Homo sapiens: one gene and its partner. The protein of the gene in region 2 interacts with the protein of the main gene of each other region in a pairwise test. Each region holds a gene or a part of one and is shown on either strand. Other genes may lie near its edges.

Region 1 (7,673 bases), on a different chromosome or scaffold from region 2:
CACTTGCTAGCCTGATAGATCCTTAGGGCTCCCCCCTCAAGCCTGCAAGTCTTCACCCCAGTGTCATTTTCTCAGTGAAGCCTTCCCTGATCACCATTTCTAAAATCTGCAGTCCAGGCCGGGTATGGTGGCTCATGCCTGTAATCCCAGTACTTTGGGAGGCCGAGGCTGGAGGACTGCTTGAGCCCAGGAGTTTGAGACCAGCCTGGGCAACACAGCAAGACCCTGTATTAAAAATAAATTAGCCAGGCAGGCTGGGGTGTGCTTGTCGTCTCAGCTACTCAGGAGGCTGAGGTGGAGGGATCGCTTGACTCCAGGAGTTCAAGGCTGCACTGAGCCATGATTGTGCCACTACACTCCAGCCTGGGTGACAGAGTGAGACCCTGACTCTAAAAAACAAAACAAAACAAAACAAAAATTAAATCACAGCTCCCTCCCCACTTGCCACACACACACACACACACACACTCTCACACACTTACTCACTTTCCTCTTCTCCCTCCCCATGTTCGGTTTCTTCCTTATCACTAACCACTATCTAACTTATTACATAGTTTACTTGTTTATCTAGTTCATCATCAATTCCTGACTAGGATGCAAACTCCACAAAGGCCGGGCTTTCGTCTGCTTTGTGGACCACGTTCAGCACCTGAGCCTCTCTCATTCACACCCAGGCACCAGCTCAGTCGCCCTAGTACTTTGGGTGAAGAGGAAGGAATATGGGCATCAGTGGTTCTTTTGTTCAGCCAAAGAGCACCCGGCACCATCGGTCTGCTCTTGAGCCTGGCAAGTGCATTTTTTTTTGGGAGCTACCCCACCATGGAATGCCAAGGAGTCCAGGGCAGGACACCATTCCTATCAGCAAACACTAGAACAGGGTAGACGCTGTGTGCCTCTGGTGTTTATCACGTGCTGCCTCTAATAAATGCTATTCACAACCACCACTAGACCAGGTCCCGTGCACCCTGACCCATTTTAACAAACGTACCCATTGAATACAGTGAAGCTGGGGAAGCCCAGCCCAGGAGCATTGCCTCACTGGGTCAGTCCCACTGCTGGGCTAGGACACCTGTGGTCCCTTCTTCTCACCCTGGAGCTGTGTCTGTGTGAGGGGCTTGCCCCTAAGCCAGCCCACCTGGCACCATGAGGCCCCTGCCTTATACAACGGTAAGTTCTCCCATAGCAGCTAAGCTAATTCTGGCTACCTACTGATTTGAAAAGGTTTTTAGAAAGAAATTTGCATTTTCCCAGAAACATCAGCTCTACATTATCCAAATAAACAACAAAGCTAGAACACAGGGGGCAAAGGATTATGAAAGGGACGGGTTTTAAACAAGGATCAAGGAATAGCAAATAATGACATCGGCAAACACTTCTATGATTCTGCTATGGTCTGAGTGTGTCTCCTGAAAATTCATGTTGAAATCCTAACCCCCAAGATGACGATATTAGCAGGTGTGGACTTTGGAGGTGACTAGGTCATGAAAGTGGAGCCCTATAAATGGGATTAGTGCCCTTCTAAAAGCAGGGTGGGAGCGGGTGTGGGGGACGTGGGGGAAAACTCCCTTGCCCGTTGCACCATGTGGAGACACAGCCAGGAGGTACTGTCTGTGCAGAAGGGACCCTCATCAGACCTGGAATCTGCCAGTGGGCTTCCCAGCCTCCAGAACTGGGAGAAACAAATTCCTGTTGCTTATAAGCCACCCAGCCTATGTTGTTTTGTTACAGCAGCCCGAGGGGACTAAGACGGGTACTGTGTCCTAGATTAGCTCATTTAATATTCACTATGATCTATGAAGCAGGCACTACTCTTCATCATTCATGAACGATTATTTCCCGCTGAGAAAACTGAGGCACAGAGCAGTCAGTCGCCTAACTCACGGCCCCTGTGAGAGGGTCGCCAAGATTCTGGAATCCGGGCAGTCTGGCTCCAGAGTCCGTGCTCTTAGTGTCCAGCTATACACTTGAAGAAGTGAAAACTGCAGCTCTTTTCGGACAGTGATCCCCTCGAAAAACAAACAAAAAACTGAAGCCCAGCGGCTGGAGCAAGGGGCCTGGAAAGGCGTTGAGCGAGGGCCGGGGCGCGAGGGCTCCGGGGCGGGCCGGCGGGGACTGCCTCTCCCGCTGGTCACCTGGGGTTGAACTGGAATTGTTCAATAGAGGCCTCGAGGCCCTCCATGATCTTCCGGCCCTCCTCTGTCTCAGGCGAGTCGCCCCAGTTCGCCATTGCAGCCCCGGACGTGCGCCTCCCGCGGAGCCGCTCGCTCTCCTGAGTCGGAGTCGGGAACCCGGCGTCCGTTGCCATGGCGACTCCCAGGTAACCGGCGAAGCGCGGGAATCCGTGGGCGGGGGCCGGGGAGGGCCGCGAGTGGAGGGGGGTGGGGAACGGGGTGGGGAGGGGAAGGGGGAAGGAGATGGGGAGGAGGGGGATAGGGAGAAGGTTGGGGATGGGGGGGAAGGGGAGAGGGAAAGGAAGTAGAGGAGGTGTGGAGGGAAGGAAGAGGGGGAAGGAGTGGGGGAAGGGGGAAGAGATGGAAAGGAGGATGGGGAGGGAGCACGCGCGGGAGGAGGGGAGTGGAGAGGGGGAGGAGGAGGCGGGGCGGGCTCCCAAGCCACCCCGCTGCGCTTTCACTGTCCCGCCTGCCTCAAGGCTTCCCCACAAGACTCCCACAGCCTGGAGGCTGCTGCGATACCCCAGAGGAAAGCTGCACCCCCGTAAATAACCCTTCAGCCTCCCGCCGTGCCCCTGGACCCTGCTCGCTTCCTCCTCTACCCAGGCGCGGAGCTCAGCCTACCTCGTGGACCCGCGCATTTGCGGGGGCTTGAATTCCCGAGCTTCTCGCTTCCTACGCGCGCAGCAGACCCGCAGCTCGGTGGCCTTGGCTTTCATGGCCTCCCAGCGTGTGCCAAAGGTCCCCCTCAAGGAGGAGGAAAAGCAGTGAACCCATCTAATAACTATGCTCATGACATAATGAGCCCTGCGATCCCGGACCAAGGCCATCATAAGAGGAGAGCAGGCTGCCTAATAAGCTGTCTCCACCTGCCACAAACGTAGGCGTTCCTGGACAAAATATTTCCTTGCAGAGATTAAACAGATTTCTATTTAATGAGGTCAGAATGTGAGGCGTTAAGTCTTAAACTATACCATCTAGTGTGGAATTCAATTTTACCAGGTTTCTACAATAATAAGAGTTAATAGTGAAACTGTTGTCATCCTTAGTTTTAAATTATGTATCACTCATTGTCAACTAATAGGAGACACCTATTCTAATATCAGTATGTCATTGTTTTTCTGTAAACGACTGGCTAAATTTATTTTTAAAATGTCATTGTCTGGTTTAGAACTGTCTATACTACATCTGCATTTCAATATATTATCTACAGAAAAATAAGTTTTTTCTCCTCTCTCTTATTATTATTATTATTATTTTTTGGAGCCGGAGTCTCGCTCTGTCGCCCAGGCTGGGGTGCAGTGGCGCGATCTGGGCTCACTGCAACCTCCGCCTCCCGGGTTCAAGCAATTCTCCTGCTTCAGCCTCCCGAGCAGCTGGGACTACAGGCACACAGCACCAAGCCAGGCTAATTTTTTGTATTTTTAGTAGAGACGGGGTTTCACCGCGTTGTGCAGGCTAGTCTAACTCCTGAGCTCAGGCAATCTGCCCCCCTCGGCCTCCCAAAGTGCTAGATAACAGGCGTGAGCCACAGAGCCCGGCCTCTTCTCTGTCTTGTAACAGTAAGTGAAAATAACTTAGCTGGATTTAGAAGCTCAAAACAGGAAAAGAAAAGCACTGTAGCATTATCACTACTATTATGTTTAAAGACAAAGATTAAAAGCCCCAAATGCCAATAAAACATCATAACCAATGCCAAAATCATCTTCTGTGAAGGCTTATTTTTTGGGGGGGAGATGAAGAGAGAAGAGAAAAAGAGTTACTTTTACTCTTTGGAGGTTTTTAATTACAAACTCTAACTTCAGACTTTATTTGGGGAATTTTTATTATATAATCAAAAGGTATTTTAAAAGAAAGAAATTTATATATCTACAATAACTTTTCTTTTTCCTAAGTGATATTTTACCACAATGTATATACATGTTTTAAAATAAAGATTAAAATTTTAAGTTAAAATTTCAAAACCTATCTGTTTAGAGCTGGGCCAAGACAGTGTAAAGAATGTGACAAGCTGTTGGCTATTTTCCTAGTGCAATTATAAATGAATCGTTTGAAACTGAGGAGAGAGATCGCACAGAAGATTTCATGAGTCATTGGTCAGCTCTGTACAGCATTTGTTGACTGATATAGTCTGCATAGTTACGCCATCCCACAAAAACATGCATTGAACAGAACATCTTTGTTTGAAACCTTGCTATAGCATATCAAGGAGTTTCAGATTTCAGTGTCTAAGAGACCACGCTATGATGATGATTGTTTTTGAAACCGTTAACTACATAATACTTCTCTTCTTGTCAGTTACCTGTATTTTATCTCACAGGTGTTCCGGCTTATAAAATTGTTTATTTCAGATCAGATTCTCACCTGTAGTAACTGGCGTTGATGTGGTCAAAACATTTGTCATATTAAATCCAGGCCTCTTTTATCACATGCTAAATTCATTGATGGCTTTAGTGGAAAGCTCATGAACTCTGCAGTAAATATTAAATATATACAGGCTTTGAAACTTACTCGATTTAGAATTTTGGGCAAGTAAGTTAACATTTCAGAGCCTCTATTTTCTCACAAGTAAAAACTGGATAATGAATGTTTCTCAAAGTTGGGGTAATCTATAAAGCAGAAAAACACGCAGCACATGCATGAGGCAACTGCAAGAGAAATACCAACTAGGCCTTTGAAGGACTCTATTCCTTCTTCCTAAACCACTACTAGGGAAAACATTGTTTAAAGATGTCAGTGTTTTGGCTGGATTCGGTGGCTCATGCCTGTAATCCCAACACTTTGGGAGGCGGAGGCAGGCAGATCACTTGAGGTCAGAAGTTTAAGACCAGCCTGGCTAACATGGTGAAACCCTGTCTCTACTAAAAATACAAAAATTACCTGTGCATGGTAATGCACGCCTGTAATCCCAGCTACTTGGGAGACTGAGGCATGAGAATCACCTGATCCCGGGAGGCAGAGGTTGCAGTGAGCCGAGACTGCACCACTGCACTCCAGCCTGGGCGACAGAGTGAGACCCTGTCTCAAAATAAATAAATAAATAAAGATTTCAATTTTAAAAAATTGAACATTTCATAAGTTAACATTGTTTTTACTTGTTCAGTTAATAGGACTTCAGGCACAATTTTAAAATTTGAAGTGCTTCTCTGACATACCACAGGTATAAATAGAATATGTATTTATATAAAAATATCGCCTACCAGTTATTAAAAGTGATAACATCTCAGATTAACTAGCATGAGAATTTGATTAAGAGTCAAGTGCTGACTCTAAACATAGTAATTTATGTATTCCAGTTGGGTAGTATCAGTTCTATAGTCTAATAAGAGCCAAGAGGTTTCAGTTTAGGTTTGTAATTTAAATTCTTTCTAGAGCGTCATCACATGCGAAGTGCTTATTTTTCTTTTATCACCAGCTATAATATATGATTATGTGGTGGAGGCTCTGTTATGTAAACTTGTTTTATGTCATGCTTCATCCACAACCAAAGTTCTTAAATAAAGTCTTTGGAAGGACATAGTAAGGCTCTTAGCCAGGGCAATATAATGCTACTAAATCCTTTATGGCAAAACTCCTGAGACTAGATCATTTTAATGTCTTAAATTTTGCTGCTGTGAGACAGCATATCCACTCTGTGAAAGTCTATCAATAAGCATTTGTCAGCCGACTAAAGCTGAAAACCAAGATGACAAGCCCAGTAGGGGGTTTGGGGCAGGCGCAACTGTGGATGTGGAATTTGGATCCTTGCCGCCAAATGTCCTTGAGCACTGGAGTAAAGGATTTCCTCTATTTGGAGCTAAGTTTAGATCATCACTGTTTAAAAGAGAGCAGGCCCGCGTGTGGCTCACGCCTGTAATCCCAGCACTTTGGAAGGCCAAGGTGGGCGGAGCCCAGAAGCTAGAGGCCAGCTTGGGCAACATTGAGACTCTGTCTCTACAAAAAATTAAAAAGAGAGAAAGAAATAGTAGTGAACGTGAAGAAAATGGCAGGGGTGGGTTGGGCCTGTAATCCCAGCACTTTGGGAAGCCAAGGTGAGGATTGCTTGAGCTCAGGAGTTCAAGACTAGACTGGGCAACATAGGGAGACCCCATCTCTGCCAAAAAAAAAAAAAAAATTTTTTTTTCAAATTAGCCAAGAACCCAGAGTCCCAGCTACCCAAGAGGGTGCAGCAGGGGGATCACGTGAGCTTGGGAAGTCAAGGATAGAGTGAGCTGTGTTCGTGCCATCATATTGTAGCCTAGATGACAGAGCAAGAGTCCATCTCAAATAAATAAATAAATACATAAATAAATGGTAGGGCTTAGCTGTCTGCAGAAGTGAGCCCACCTGAGAGAGAATTTGTAAACTTACTGCTGAGGGAAGTTTGGGCGATCTCCAGTCTGTTCAAATGACCAGAGTGGATCCTAGTGCCTAGAACATAACCTAGGAAAACTGTCACCCACATATTGGAATTTAGGGTGAGGCGGTTCAGGACAAGTCAAAGTCTGGAGAGTAATACAAGGGCAGTCACCATATTTCATGCCGTCTAAGATTGCATCCTTTAGGATGTGTCTTTATTTTCTGTGCCACTTAGAAAAAAACACTTGCCAACTATGATTATACCTTGACACACCATGGGCTATATGATACACTACAATTTCAAGGATATACCAAAATGATACACCAAAATTTTATGTTAGAAATGTGAAAAACTGTCCAGGCACAGTGGCTCACACTGTAATCCCAGCACTTTGGGAGGCCCAGGTGGGCAGATTACCTGAGGCCAGGAGTTTGAGACCAGCCTGGCCAACATAGCAAAACCCCATCTCTACTAAAAATACAAAAATTATCCAGGTGTGGTGGCATGCACCTGTTATCCCAGCTACTTGGGATGCTGAAGCAGGAGAATCACTTGAACCTGGGAGGCAGAGGTTGCAGTGAGCTGAGATTGCACCACTGCACTCCAGCCTGGGCGACAGAGACTCTGTAGGCAACCCCCCCTCCCCCGTCAAAAAAAAGTGAAAAACTGTATATCTTAGAATCAGTGAATAAGGTAGTTAATAAGAATTTATCAGGCAGAGATCCTTCCTGGGGCCCCATTTAATCAGACCCTAGAAGGATCTACTCTCTTGAGAAGCAGGACATTCGTGAGGTTTTTCCACAATAACTTGGATAAAGTGCCCGTAGGACCATCTGGTTCTCTCTGTTCTTTTTCTAGTGTCACAGGGCAACATGCAAATAACTAATTCATGTTCTTGGGTACATAGATGCCAAGAAAGTCTTGATCTAGACAGCAAATGTGATTTTGGCTAGTGTGAATGTTCCCCTGTAGTCTCACCTGAATAAACTGATAAAATACAGTGTTTAGAGCTGTCTACATGAGGACTAGACTCAGAGTCAAGGCATCCCCACAAGGTACCACCAAGTCACACTTTACCAGGCAGTCAGCATGGCTCTCTTATTAACACTTCTGCATCTGCGATATTAAGCGCCCTTTATCATCCTGCAGCTTCAAACTCTGTC
Region 2 (4,093 bases):
CAGGGGTTGTGCTGAGTGAGAATTCTCTCCCTGGGGCTTTGTCGGCAGAGGGTCCTCATGGGAGTGCCATAGGGGGTGAGGCTGGGGGATGGGCCTTGACTTCTCTGCCCTGGGGCTGCGTGCCTCTTGATGACCTGTCCTCCGATGCCCTGCCAGGGCCCTGTCCCAATGGGATGATGCATGGGGCAGCCTGTTGTTTATCCCAGCCCAGCAGCAGGAAATGAGTAGAGCTAAGTCCACATGGACTTTCTCCACTTTCCATGCTTCAGAATCAAAAGAGTGGAACTGCCTGGAGTTCTCAGGGAAACAAGGGCCTGCCTCCCAGCGGGATCCGAGGGTGAGAGGGGGCAGGGAAAGCAGTGTGACCTGTCTGACCTGTGCTGCTTGTTTGCAGAACAGCAGAGAGGGGCAGCAGGATGAATGTGGGCACAGCGCACAGCGAGGTGAACCCCAACACGCGGGTGATGAACAGCCGTGGCATCTGGCTCTCCTACGTGCTGGCCATCGGTCTCCTCCACATCGTGCTGCTGAGCATCCCGTTTGTGAGTGTCCCTGTCGTCTGGACCCTCACCAACCTCATTCACAACATGGTGAGAGCCTGTCTGCTGCCTGCCCCTGCCCCTGCCCCTGCCCTGTGGGCTGCCCTTTGGCAGGGCTGAGGGATAGGAGGAGCCTGTCGGGCCTGGCCCAGGTGTCAGGGTGATGTACTGACGACATCTGCCTCCAGAGCCCAGGCCTAGCCCTTACCTCTCTGCCTTGCTCCCCCTTCTGGGTTCCTGCCCTGTGTACCATGACAGGAATCAAATCTGCAGATTTTTCCACATCTCTAGGGTGGGGTGGCTGTTGGCCTGGAAGATGTGCTCCTGAGAGCTGAACAAAGGGCTCCAGAGAGTTCCCAGGACCCGAGAGTCCTGGTGCCTAGGCTGATACAGAAATGCCCCTTTCTCAAGTTAGCTTCTCGAACCGTCTTCCACTTTTGCCCTTCTCTGCTCCCTCACCACTTGCTACCTTGCACTCTTTGTCGGGTAAGCAGGGCTTAGTCCCATCGCTTGCCTCCTCCCAACAGGCACAGGGGGCTATGAGTGGCCTGGAGGGGGGCAGCATCTCGGTGCCTATCTTGTGGCCAACTTCCACCGTGCATTCTCATGCCAGGCCTAGCCCGTCCCCCAGGGAGTCCCCTTGTTCTTCTCCTGCCATACTCCCAGCTGCTCCATCCTGACCTCCAGCCCATATCCCCCTGCCCAGCAGAGGGAGGCTCCAGATCACTGGGAGTTACTTGTGTCTGTGACTGGGTGGAGGAGCTGGGCAGGGGGGCCTTTCCCTTTTGTATCCTCTAACAAAGACTTCTTCCTCCAGGGCATGTATATCTTCCTGCACACGGTGAAGGGGACACCCTTTGAGACCCCGGACCAGGGCAAGGCGAGGCTGCTAACCCACTGGGAGCAGATGGATTATGGGGTCCAGTTCACGGCCTCTCGGAAGTTCTTGACCATCACACCCATCGTGCTGTGAGTGCCTGGGCTACAGGAAGACACCAGCAGGCAGGGCAAGGCCTGGAGGACCCCAGGGCCCAGCCATGCTTATTAACCCTGCCGTGGCTCCTGGTGTAGGGATGAACAGAGGAAGTTGGAATATTCCTGGGTCTTACACTGGACTCAGGCTTTGGGCCTCCCTGGCCCCATCTTTCCTCCATTGGAGCTTCCTTCCTGCTAGTGAGATAGGCCTACAGGCTTGGGGTGAAGCTGGGAGGTGGGGGCGGTACTGGGCCAGGAGGGGCCCCTTTAGCCTGAGAGCTCTTGCTTCTTACGCTGGTCTGGGAACCTCTTCTGTAACTCCTTAGCTGTTGGGATTCTGCCTTTCCCCTCCCAGGAAGTGAGGGAGGAAGGGGTCCTCCCAACAGTCTTTTATATCTCTCCCCACCCTTCCCCTCCCAGGTACTTCCTCACCAGCTTCTACACTAAGTACGACCAGATCCATTTTGTGCTCAACACCGTGTCCCTGATGAGCGTGCTTATCCCCAAGCTGCCCCAGCTCCACGGAGTCCGGATTTTTGGAATCAATAAGTACTGAGAGTGCAGCCCCTTCCCCTGCCCAGGGTGGCAGGGGAGGGGTAGGGTAAAAGGCATGTGCTGCAACACTGAAGACAGAAAGAAGAAGCCTCTGGACACTGCCAGAGATGGGGGTTGAGCCTCTGGCCTAATTTCCCCCCTCGCTTCCCCCAGTAGCCAACTTGGAGTAGCTTGTAGTGGGGTTGGGGTAGGCCCCCTGGGCTCTGACCTTTTCTGAATTTTTTGATCTTTTCCTTTTGCTTTTTGAATAGAGACTCCATGGAGTTGGTCATGGAATGGGCTGGGCTCCTGGGCTGAACATGGACCACGCAGTTGCGACAGGAGGCCAGGGGAAAAACCCCTGCTCACTTGTTTGCCCTCAGGCAGCCAAAGCACTTTAACCCCTGCATAGGGAGCAGAGGGCGGTACGGCTTCTGGATTGTTTCACTGTGATTCCTAGGTTTTTTCGATGCCACGCAGTGTGTGCTTTTGTGTATGGAAGCAAGTGTGGGATGGGTCTTTGCCTTTCTGGGTAGGGAGCTGTCTAATCCAAGTCCCAGGCTTTTGGCAGCTTCTCTGCAACCCACCGTGGGTCCTGGTTGGGAGTGGGGAGGGTCAGGTTGGGGAAAGATGGGGTAGAGTGTAGATGGCTTGGTTCCAGAGGTGAGGGGGCCAGGGCTGCTGCCATCCTGGCCTGGTGGAGGTTGGGGAGCTGTAGGAGAGCTAGTGAGTCGAGACTTAGAAGAATGGGGCCACATAGCAGCAGAGGACTGGTGTAAGGGAGGGAGGGGTAGGGACAGAAGCTAGACCCAATCTCCTTTGGGATGTGGGCAGGGAGGGAAGCAGGCTTGGAGGGTTAATTTACCCACAGAATGTGATAGTAATAGGGGAGGGAGGCTGCTGTGGGTTTAACTCCTGGGTTGGCTGTTGGGTAGACAGGTGGGGAAAAGGCCCGTGAGTCATTGTAAGCACAGGTCCAACTTGGCCCTGACTCCTGCGGGGGTATGGGGAAGCTGTGACAGAAACGATGGGTGCTGTGGTCCTCTGCAGGCCCTCACCCCTTAACTTCCTCATACAGACTGGCACTGGGCAGGGCCTCTCATGTGGCAGCCACATGTGGCGTTGTGAGGCCACCCCATGTGGGGTCTGTGGTGAGAGTCCTGTAGGATCCCTGCTCAAGCAGCACAGAGGAAGGGGCAAGACGTGGCCTGTAGGCACTGTCTCAGCCTGCAGAGAAGAAAGTGAGGCCGGGAGCCTGAGCCTGGGCTGGAGCCTTCTCCCCTCCCCAGTTGGACTAGGGGCAGTGTTAATTTTGAAAAGGTGTGGGTCCCTGTGTCCTCTTCCAGGGGTCCAAGGGAACGGGAGAGGTCACTGGGCCTGTTTTCTCCCTCCTGACCCTGCATCTCCCACCCCGTGTATCATAGGGAACTTTCACCTTAAAATCTTTCTAAGCAAAGTGTGAATAGGATTTTTACTCCCTTTGTACAGTATTCTGAGAAACGCAAATAAAAGGGCAACATGTTTCTGTTTCCCTGTGTCTGGCCTTCGCTTCCTGGAAGGCTGAGGGGAGGGGGCAGGGGTGTGGGCAGCGGCTCCCGCTGAGGTGCTGGTGGGGCATCAGTGCAGCTCTGACGGTGGCAGGAGGGGCGCTGGGACTGCTGGGCTTTCTGCTGGCTTCAGCAGGGAAATCCCCCAAGGGGGCTGTGAGGGAACTGGCGGCGGCAGCGGTAGTCAGAGAGCAAAATTCTCTGTGCTTTTGCCTGGCTGTTCTCCGACAGGTCTTGCGCCTTGGCCCCAGAGGCTGGGGTGACCTGTGCCATGGCCAAGGAGGGGGACACTCCAGCAATGGTTTACACGTGGAGCCAGGGTCCCAAGTGGTGCTCAGTCCTTCCCAGTGAATCCCCAGCCCTTCTCCAGTTTCTCACTTCTCTCCCCAAGGCCTTTCCCCAGTCACCTCTCCCTTGGGAGCGCTGCGTTTCCTTCTGGCCTTTCAGTGGAGGGGACTTTTCATACTTCCTCCTCCCACCATAAGCCTGAGTGGCAGG

Evidence for each region. Proteins that work in one complex are often made in the same cells at the same time.
Region 1: the proteins of ORMDL3 (region 2) and C10orf67 interact in binary tests that used the Homo sapiens proteins (3 or more experiments, as listed by UniProt).

Annotation. Positions count from the first base shown.
Region 1 is NC_000010.11:23,341,774-23,349,446, forward strand, and holds the start of C10orf67 (uncharacterized protein C10orf67, mitochondrial), read right to left. Parts: upstream 3,025-7,673; 5' UTR 3,005-3,024; coding exon of another isoform or gene 3,002-3,004; coding exon 2,796-3,001; exon of another isoform or gene 2,651-2,795; intron 2,318-2,650; exon of another isoform or gene 2,306-2,317; coding exon of another isoform or gene 2,133-2,305; intron 1-2,132.
Region 2 is NC_000017.11:39,920,527-39,924,619, reverse strand, and holds the end of ORMDL3 (ORM1-like protein 3), read left to right. Parts: intron 1-394; 5' UTR 395-416; coding exon 417-590; intron 591-1,356; coding exon 1,357-1,508; intron 1,509-1,934; coding exon 1,935-2,070; 3' UTR 2,071-3,577; downstream 3,578-4,093. UniProt on the Homo sapiens protein: Plays an essential role in the homeostatic regulation of sphingolipid de novo biosynthesis by modulating the activity of the serine palmitoyltransferase (SPT) in response to ceramide levels.